Regions from separate parts of the Homo sapiens genome. Here region 2 is linked to region 1. The links come from fine-mapping of genetic effects on gene expression. A gene starts in region 1. The other region holds a variant in brackets. All regions are shown on one strand. Distances are between the middles of the regions. Region 1 holds the start of LINC01876 (long intergenic non-protein coding RNA 1876). Region 2 has its middle 21 kb from the start of LINC01876.

Region 1 (5,242 bases):
TATTTCTTGCCTTCTGCTAGCTTTTGAATGTGTTTGCTCTTGCTTTTCTAGTTCTTTTAATTGTGATGTTAGGGTGTCAATTTTGGATCTTTCCTGCTTTCTCTTGTGGGCATTTAGTGCTATAAATTTCCGTCTACACACTGCTTTGAATGTGTCCCAGAGATTCTGGTATGTTGTGTCTTTGTTCTCGTTGGTTTCAAAGAACATCTTTATTTCTGCCTTCATTTCGTTATGTACCCAGTAGTCATTCAGGAGCAGGTTGTTCAGTTTCCATGTAGTTGAGCGGTTTTGAGTGAGATTCTTAATGCTGAGTTCTAGTTTGATTGCACTGTGGTCTGAGAGATAGTTTGTTATAATCTCTGTTCTTTTACATTTGCTGAGGAGAGCTTTACTTCCAAGTATGTGGTCAATTTTGGAATAGGTGTGGTGTGGTGCTGAAAAAAATGTATATTCTGTTGATTTGGGGTGGAGAGTTCTGTAGATGTCTATTAGGTCTGCTTGGTGCAGAGCTGAGTTCAAGTCCTGGGTATCCTTGTTGACTTTCTGTCTCGTTGATCTGTCTAATGTTGACAGTGGGGTGTTAAAGTCTCCCATTATTAATGTGTGGGAGTCTAAGTCTCTTTGTAGGTCACTAAGCACTTGCTTTATGAATCTGGGTGCTCCTGTATTGGGTGCATATATATTCAGGATAGTTAGCTCTTCTTGTGGAATTGATCCCTTTACCATTATGTAATGGCCTTCTTTGTCTCTTTTGATCTTTGTTGGTTTAAAGTCTGTTTTATCAGAGACTAGGATTGCAACCCCTGCCTTTTTTTGTTTTCCATTTGCTTGGTAGATCTTCCTCCATCCTTTTATTTTGAGCCTATGTGTGTCTCTGCACGTGAGATGGGTTTCCTGAATACAGCACACTGATGGGTCTTGACTCTTTATCCAATTTGCCAGTCTGTGTCTTTTAATTGGAGCATTTAGTCCATTTACATTTAAAGTTAATATTGTTATGTGTGAATTTGATCCTGTCATTATGATGTTAGCTGGTTATTTTGCACGTTAGTTGATGCAGTTTCTTCCTAGTCTTGATGGTCTTTACATTTTGGCATGATTTTGCAGTGGCTGGTACCGGTTGTTCCTTTCCATGTTTAGCGCTTCCTTCAGGAGCTCTTTTAGGGCAGGCCTGCTGGTGACAAAATCTCTCAGCATTTGCTTGTCTGTAAAGTATTTTATTTCTCCTTCACTTATGAAGCTTAGTTTGGCTGGATATGAAATTCTGGGTTGAAAATTCTTTTCTTTAAGAATGTTGAATATTGGCCCCCACTCTCTTCTGGCTTGTAGGGTTTCTGCCGAGACATTCACTGTTAGTCTGATGGGCTTCCCTTTGAGGGTAACCCGACCTTTCTCTCTGGCTGCCCTTAACATTTTTTCCTTCATTTCAACTTTGGTGAATCTGACAATGTGTCTTGGAGTTGCTCTTCTCGAGGAGTATCTTTGTGGCGTTCTCTGTATTTCCTGAATCTGAACGTTGGCCTGCCTTGCTAGATAGGGGAAGTTCTCCTGGATAATATCCTGCAGAGTGTTTTCCAACTTGGTTCCATTCTCCCCATCACTTTCAGGTACACCAATCAGACGTAGATTTGGTCTTTTCACATAGTCCCATATTTCTTGGAGGCTTTGCTCATTTCTTTTTATTCTTTTTTCTCTAAACTTCCCTTCTCGCTTCATTTCATTCATTTCATCTTCCATTGCTGATACCCTTTCTTCCAGTTGATCGCATCAGCTCCTGAGGCTTCTGCATTCTTCACGTAGATCTCGAGCCTTGGTTTTCAGCTCCATCAGCTCCTTTAAGCACTTCTCTGTATTGGTTATTCTAGTTATACATTCTTCTAAATTTTTTTCAAAGTTTTCAAGTTCTTTGCCTTTGGTTTGAATGTCCTCCCGTAGCTCAGAGTAATTTGATCGTCTGAAGCCTTCTTCTCTCAGCTCATCAAAGTCATTCTCCATCCGGCTTTGTTCCGTTGCTGGTGAGGAACTGCGTTCCTTTGGAGGAGGAGAGGTGCTCTGCGTTTTAGAGTTTCCAGTTTTTCTGTTCTGTTTTTTCCCCATCTTTGTGGTTTTATCTACTTTTGGTCTTTGATGATGGTGATGTACAGATGGGTTTTTGGTGCGGATGTCCTTTCTGTTTGTTAGTTTTCCTTCTAACAGACAGGACCCTCAGCTGCAGGTCTGTTGGAATACCCTGCCGTGTGAGGTGTCAGTGTGCCCCTGCTGGGGGGTGCCTCCCAGTTAGGCTGCTCGGGGGTCAGGGGTCAGGGACCCACTTGAGGAGGCAGTCTGCCCGTTCTCAGATCTCCAGCTGCGTGCTGGGAGAACCACTGCTCTCTTCAAAGCTGTCAGACAGGGACATTTAAGTCTGCAGAGGTTACTGCTGTCTTTTTGTTTGTCTGTGCCCTGCCCCCAGAGGTGGAGCCTACAGAGGCAGGCAGGCCTCCGTGAGCTGTGGTGGGCTCCACCCAGTTCGAGCTTCCCGGCTGCTTTGTTTACCTAAGCAAGCCTGGGCAACGGCGGGCGCCCCTCCCCCAGCCTCGCTGCCGCCTTGCAGTTTGATCTCAGACTGCTGTGCTAGCAATCAGCGAGACTCCCTGTGAGTAGGACCCTCCGAGCCAGGTGCGGCTTATAATCTCGTGGTGCGCCGTTTTTTAAGCCGGTCGGAAAAGCGCAGTATTCGGGTGGGAGTGACCCGATTTTCCAGGTGCGTCCTTTACCCCTTTCTTTGACTCGGAAAGGGAACTCCCTGACCACTTGCGCTTCCCAAGTGAGGCAATGCCTCGCCCTGCTTCGGCTTGCACATGGTGCGCGCACCCACTGACCTGCGCCCACTGTCTGGCACTGCCTAGTGAGATGAACCCGGTACCTCAGATGGAAATGCAGAAATCACCCGTCTTCTGCGTCGCTCACGCTGGGAGCTGTAGACTGGAGCTGTTCCTATTCGGCCATCTTGGCTCCTCCTCAACCAGTTTTTAATGGGGTTGTTTTTTCTTGGAAATTGTTAAAGTTCCTTGTAGATGCTGAACATTAGCCCTTTGTAGGATGCATAGGTTGCAAAAATTTTTCTCCCATTCTGTAGTTGTCTGTTTAGTCTGTTGATTGTTTCTTTTGATGTGCAGAAGCTCTTTAATTAGATCCCATTTGTCAATTTTTGCTTTTGTTGCAATTGCTTTTGGTGTCTTTGTCATGAAATCTTTGCCCATGCCTATGTCCTGAATGATATTGTCTAGGTTGTCTTCTGGGTTTTTATAGTTTTGGGTTTTGTAATTAAGCCTTTAATCCATCTTGAGTAAATTTTTGTATAATGTGTAAGGAAGGGGTCCAGTTTTAAACTTTGGCATATGGCTAGCCGGTTATCCCAGCATTATTTATTGAATGGAAAATCTTTTCCCCATTCAATAAATTTATCCATTGCTTGTTTTTGTCAGATTTGTCAAAGATTAGATAGTGGCAGGTATACAGTCTTATTTCTGGGTTCTCTATTCTGTTCCATTGGTCTGTGTGTCTGTTTTTGTACTGGTACCATGCTATTTTGATTACTGTAGCCCTGTAGTATAGTTTGAGGTAGGGTAACGTGATGCCTCCAGCTTTGTTCTTTTTGCTTAGGATTGAATTGGCTATTTGGGGTCTATTTTGCAAGCCCAAGAGTTCTTAACAGAAAAGTAATTATATACAGAAATGATCAACCATTAGGAAATTATGCATTGTTGATGGGCACAAGGTTTATGACAGGCAGAAATTTGCAAATGAACTAAGTAGAGTTTTACATTACTTTTATTTTATTTTATTGAGAAGTTAAAAAATTATCTGCAGAAAACAAAATCAATCAAATTCCTCTGTTCATGGTATGCTATCCTCTTTTCTCTTTGTTCACCTTTTATCTTCTTGTTATTTTCAAGCCACCCCTGACCACTCAACTGCATTTGGATATATGTATTTTTTCAGATTACACATATATATGTATATATATGGAATCTGAAAAATATAAAATATTGTTTTATATTTGTATGCTTTATATTTATATAAGTGATAGCGTATTTTAATCTCATTCATTTTTTGATTTTCTTATTCTTCACTATGTTTTCTTGATTTATGCCTATTTTCCTATGTGTCATTTTGCTCTGATCATAGTATTCCATAGTACACATTTATTCTACTTTATTTCCCTAGCAAAGTGCACCTAAATTGCTTCCAACTTCCTTCTATCACAAATAATGCTGTGATAAACATAATGACACACAACTCCTTTGGTATCTCTGCACATATTTCTCTGGACATATACTGAGGAGAAAGATTGCTGTGTCTTAGGCGATGCACATTCCATACCACAGTTCACACTGCCAGACTAAAAGGGCTCTGTTGCTCTTCATGCCTGCCACGATGCACAAGATTCCTATTTCTCCATAATCTCACAAACATTTGGTGATATTTCTAGTTTTTGTCAAAGTGATGTATATAAAGTGGTGCCTCATGTTTTAATTTGCATCCACATAAAAATCAGTGTGGTTGATCATCTCTTTACATAATAGTTTTTCCATTGGATACTCATGGGTTTTGATCTTTTACTTGTTGGCATATGTCCCTCATATCTTATAAATATTAAATGGTTGCCAATTTTTGATATGTTTATAAAATAAAATAGAAATTAAAGAAGAGAGAGAGAATATGGAAGAATTCTTCTTCTTCTTCTTTTTTTGGTCACCCAGGCTGGAGTGTAGTAGTGCCATCTGGGCTTACTGCAACCTCAGCCTCAGAGGTTCGAACAATTCTATGCCTCAGCCACCTGCGTAGCTGGCATTACAGATGCATGACACCACGTCTGGCTAATTTTTGTATTTTTAGTAGAGATGGGGTGTCGCCGTGTTGGCCAGGCTGGTCTCAAACTCCTGACCTCAGGTGATCTGCCTGCTCCCAAAGTGTTGGGATTACAGGCATGTGCCACCAACCTCTGCCAAATACGGAAAATTCTAAAAGTAACTGAATTCAGAATTCATTTGGAGTTTATATGGATTTTATCATGTTATTCTTTCCACTTGACTGTGTGTTTGAAAAAGCCTATATTAAAATTTTGGCTAAAGTCTTTTTGCTTTGCATCAACAGTTTTCAGAGGCTGTGGAGCTGAAATAGAAAATGTTCATATTCATTTAGCTATTGAAGAAATAATAATAATAATAATTTTTTTTTGAGATGGAGTCTCGCTCTG
Region 2 (5,242 bases), 21 kb before region 1:
ATGACAGTTCAAAGATAAAGTTTTGATAATACTTGTTGGCATTAAGTCAGGGCCTCCCTAAGTATGGATCTTTTTTTGTTGCTCTCTTCTCCTCTCTTGTCTCTTAATCAGGAAGTTTTACAGTGGTCGAGGAACATTATTCAAACAAAAAAAAAGTACAAGTTTAAAAATAACTGAATAACGAGTCTTCTACCACCATGCCAAGGGCAGAGTTCTGCTTAAAGATGATTTGGAGAATGTGCTTGGGCTTGAGGTCCACTTTGAATTTCTTAGACTCTTTTTTTTTTGGTCCTAGTTCAGATCTTAGAACCTCCAAACCCTTGATGTATATGCTGGCACAAAAAGAAAGATATTGGGATGAAGGAGGAAAGAAAGAGGGAGAGAAAGAGAGAAGGAAAGTAGAAAAGAAGGGTTGAAATAATTGGGTGTGTAGTTGTCAGGCAAAATACAGGATAGCTAGTTAAATTTGAACATCAGATAAACAATACATACATTTTCACTGTGACGTATATCTCAAATATTGCACAGGGCATACTTACACGAGTAATTATTTATTCTTTATCTGATGTTAAAATTTAACTAGCAATTCTGTATTTTTATTTGCAAAAATTGGCAACTCTAGTTGCATTCCAGAAGGATGTTAAGTCTGTTTATCTATTCAGTTACATGGAATAAAAGAAATGGATTACCATCTCCCTTCTTTCCAGTGGCAGGTGCTGCCTGGTCCAAGACAGGACGGCAAGAGAATCCATAGGTCATGAAAACTTTCTTTTAAAGTACAGCCAGACTGCCCATTAGCAAGTTATAGTGTCATGTAAGTCTCATGCATGGACCAATTTTGTTAGCAACTTTTAGTGGAGGAACTAATAAAGAAGGTGGTTCAAGGTAGAGGAATCAGAAGAATCACTTTCTTATCAGATGATATGTCTTTCTGGGTGCCTCTTTTACACCTCATTTTCTTTCCTTTATTAATACAGAAAAGTTAGAAAGATGAACTCAAATCTTTCTTCTGTCCTCTAGCAAAGATTCTGGTAAGGAAGCATCAAGTCTGTGGAATAGAGAAGAGAACTTTTATTGATTGATTGACTTATTGCTTAAGTGTTGTGTAGAGATGGTCTATTGACAGATGCAACCTGGCATTTTGATAATATTAGGTGGTAGTAAGTAGGTGCCTAGAGACCTTTTGCAGCTTGTACATATGTTAAGGTTTTCCTCCTACCTATGGAAGAGAGCTGGCCCATGACTCAACAGCTCTGGACTTCCCCGACCCTGGCCATGCACCTGGCTAGTGAAGTGAACAGCTCTGTTGGCTGGACTGCCACCCCACTTTCCTGGGTCCTTATTCACTTTTGTATAGAGCAATGCCTGGCCACAGAGCTAGCAACTTCCCAACTGATAGAAACAGTTCAGTGCTTAGGCTTCATTAACAGATGTAGAGCACCCAGGAAAGAGGGCAGTGACAAACTTGCTTTATTTGTGCTGCAGAATATCCAGAGTATTGTGTTTAATTTGGGGACTATATTATACAGGTGGCACTTAACATGTTGGAAAAATGTAATGAGTTCAATAAGCTGCTGAAGTGAGAAACAGGTTGAGGAATTACATATGGTTGGTTTGAAAAAGGAGGACTCATAATCACACAAAGACTGTGTGTGATTTTTGTCTTCAGGTATCTTTCATGCAGGATGAAGTTTAGATTTATTCTGTATTACCCTACAATGGAGATTCTTAACTTTTGTGAATATGATAAATGCTTTTGACATTTGATGGAGAAAAATGTATACATTCACGATATGCATACACATTAGAAATTTTTAGTAACCATATGCATTCATTTTAGGAAACCCTCAGATGTACTGTCTTCCTAGAGGATGAATACAGAAAGATCACAGCAGCAGATTTCAGTTTAGTAATAAAAGAACTTTCTAGTGATTTGAGCTTTCTGGAGCTGAAATAGGCTGCTTCAGGAGTTAATAAGCTCCCTATCCCTGGGCAGTTTTAAGCAGAGGCCGGGTGGTCCCTTGATGGTTATATTGAAGAGGACTCTTATAAATATGGTGGAGTTTTGGCCAGATTCTAATTCCTTTAAAGCCTTGAGAATCAATTAGATTCTATGAGTTTTATAGTAAAAGCCTCATATAACATGATTGGTCTATAAGGCATATGGTAATCCTGTTCATAGACATTGGCATTCATGTATGGCTTTATGGAGTATTTGATTTATTTTAGGACTTCTGCTTGATTTCCTCTTGGTCTGCCTCATAATTTTCATTAGCTCCATTTGGAGATTTTTTTGGGG[G/A]TTTGGCTCTATGGCCCAGTACCCATATTCATTGCAGTAATAAAGTTTTAATACTGAAATATAAAGTCATGTGTTAGTTATCAAATTTCCTTAGCTCATTAGCTCCTGAAGAATAGAAACCAAAGTTTTTTAGGATGATCTTGTAGAGAGATCAGCTTGCTGGGGTTACCAAGGTCATTCTGTGACTCCCTGCCATCCTTTGCATAACCATAATTTCAAGAACCTTTTAACTCAATCACTGTAATTACTTTACATGTTTTGTTGGAGAGAGAGACATAGAGAAAGAACAGAGGTGTTCTGTGATTTTGGGTCATTTTTAGCCATAGCTTCTTAATACAGAATGACTGCATTGCTGAACCAAATGAACAGATTTAGTCTTCAGTTTCCAATCCTTGAGATTTCTCCTGACCCTAGAAGCCAAAGTATTGCTTAATGATAATTATGTTTCTTCGGGTTTCCAGATCAATTTGGCATAGAACATATCTACTTTGTTGTCCAGACAAGGCACAGAGAATGAATGAATAAGATCATCTTCCAGAAGGTAGAACCTCGTTAAAAATAGGAACTGAGAAATATATTGCCGTGGAAGCATTTGTTGTTATGTTATTAACAGGGACTCAGATGTGTGAGATGTAGGTTTAATTTATATTTAAAATATACTGATGAAATATATTGCTAATCTTTTCATTCTTATGAACTGGGGGTTACTTGAGTGATTTCCAAGAGTAGATTCTCCCACAGGAAAGCAGCCTACTTCCCCAAATGCCAGCAATTTTGGGGCATTATCAAAAAGAGTATTAGAGTCAGGAGAACAATGTGTGGAATTTTGGAACCAGAAGAATAGCTAGAGCAGGTCCAGAAAAGGGCACCTGAACTGAATCAAGGGAATGTGAGTGCTGCCATCTGAGGACAATCTAAAAATATGTGCTCTCATCTGTCTGGCAATATGCAGGCGAAAATGAAAAATGATTGACGCCTGTCAAATTATGAAAGTTATGTATAATTGGAACCAGACTTAAATGCAAATGAACTAACATATGTGAATGGGATTTAAATAGTTCCTGGCACATAGTAGGTGTTCAATAAATGTTAATTCCTTTCTTATGCAAGCTTCTTTTGAAGTTTAAAAGAGGAAATCTTAACACAAATAAAAAATATGTAATTTGCTGCAGGTAGTAAACATATGAAATTTGATACTGAAGGAGGTGATTTTGATGGAAAATGTGAAACTAGCTTTAAAATGGAATTGGATACATCCAGAGATGATAAATACATAATGATTAGTTAAGGGAAATGAGTCTTTGGAGGCTGAGAGGACAACTTCTAACTTCAAAAAATAAGTTTGTTGTTTTTCTCAATATAAAAGACACATTTGTTAAATAGTTTTTTAAAAAAAATAGTTGAACAAAACAAAAAACCACTTAGGCTATCACCATTCAGAAATACCACTCTTAACATTTTGTATGTATAGTTGCAGTATCTTTCCATGTAAGTGAAGATATTTTATCAGAGGTACACAAATCTTGATAAACTTTATTTTACTTGATGAAGTGGACATTTATTTTTTCCATGTCACTAAATATTATTCACAACACAATTTTATGTGATTAATATTCTTTAGTATGAAGAATGTCATATGGTTTATGTAATCAATTGTCTACAATTGGACCTTGGTAATTTCCCCAAATTTTGCTATTAGAAGCAAAACTTGTGTATCTGTCTTTGTGTAGTTTTAAAAATATTTTATTAGGTTGAATCCATAGAAATGAAATTGCTTGATCAAGGAGCATGAACATTTTTGAAGGTTTTAATAGGTATTGCCAAGTACTCTCAAGAAATGTTATAATAGCAATGTATACTGCCATCTCGGTTTATTAAAGTATTCATTTCCCCAAATCCTTTTCAAACCTGGACACATAAAAAGCCGATTTGCCAAGTTTATGTTTAAAATATGTTATAATTTTAACTTAACATTCATTACTAGTAATTAATGTGAGATTAAATATCAAATATTTTCAAATGTTATTATGTTTGGGATAAGGGCATTGCCATTTTATATACTTTAATGTTATATTGATGTGCCTGTCTTTTTCTTATTAATTTGCAAAAATTTCTAAATGTTGCAGTGTAGTTGATTTTTAAAATGCTTTTTCTGTGTTTGAGAATTCTCCTTCATTTGAGTTCTGGCCAGCTTTCTTACTACAGAAACCAACAAGATAGGATGCTTTTTCCTAAGGTTCTTCACAGTCGTGGTGTTGCATGTGATCTATTTCAACAAATCATCTCCATCCATCTGGGACTTCTGAATTTGGAGCTAGGGATGCAGAGAAGCATGGAAAGATGGGAATTTATTCTGGTAATGTGGCAGGTCAAGCAGTGTCAGCAGGAGTACCTAATGTTCCATGCTTAGCCTCATTGGTTGTGGTGTCCTCAGCAGATGGGATCTGTGATATAATTTTGATTGTGATTCTGGCTGCCTAGCCTCTCATTTTTAATATCATTATTTTAAAAGTCAGGTTTACTAGGGTGTTTACACATAGTAATATTCAAGAATATTGTTTGATGAGTTTTGACAAATGTATAACATTTTATAATCAAGATATAGACCATTTGCTTATTTATTGGCTATTTACCGTGAGCCAGGCATGAAATGACTCACTTATGTTCTTTCATTTAAAACACATCACAACTTCTTGTTGTTGGTTCTATTGTTCACATTTCACCAAACGTATATTCTATAACTTGCCCCAAATAACACTCTGGTTGGTGGCTGAGCCAAGATGTAAACCTACAGTCATTTCTCCTGTTCTGCACTGCTTCAACAAATCAAGGCGTTGTCATTTGTTAAAATGCTCATTACCTAGATATCCATTTGGAAGCATGATTTTTCCACATTATTCCTATTTGAAATCTCCAATATTCAGAAACAGAACCTAAAACAAG

Evidence for each region. PIP is the estimated chance that this variant, and not a neighbour inherited with it, causes the effect.
Region 2: its variant is fine-mapped to the expression of LINC01876 in blood mononuclear cells (TOPMed, PIP above 0.99). The same link has a PIP of 0.9 or more in ovary, tibial artery, tibial nerve and whole blood.

Annotation. Positions count from the first base shown.
Region 1 is chr2:156,252,279-156,257,520 of GRCh38, reverse strand. LINC01876 (long intergenic non-protein coding RNA 1876) reads left to right here and starts at 2,590. Exons shown (of 4, transcript NR_110250.2): 1 at 2,590-2,743.
Region 2 is chr2:156,273,302-156,278,543 of GRCh38, reverse strand. No RefSeq gene overlaps it. Among named protein-coding and RNA genes, the nearest start is that of LINC01876, 21 kb to the right of the region's middle. The variant G/A (reference allele first, on the strand shown) is at 2,300.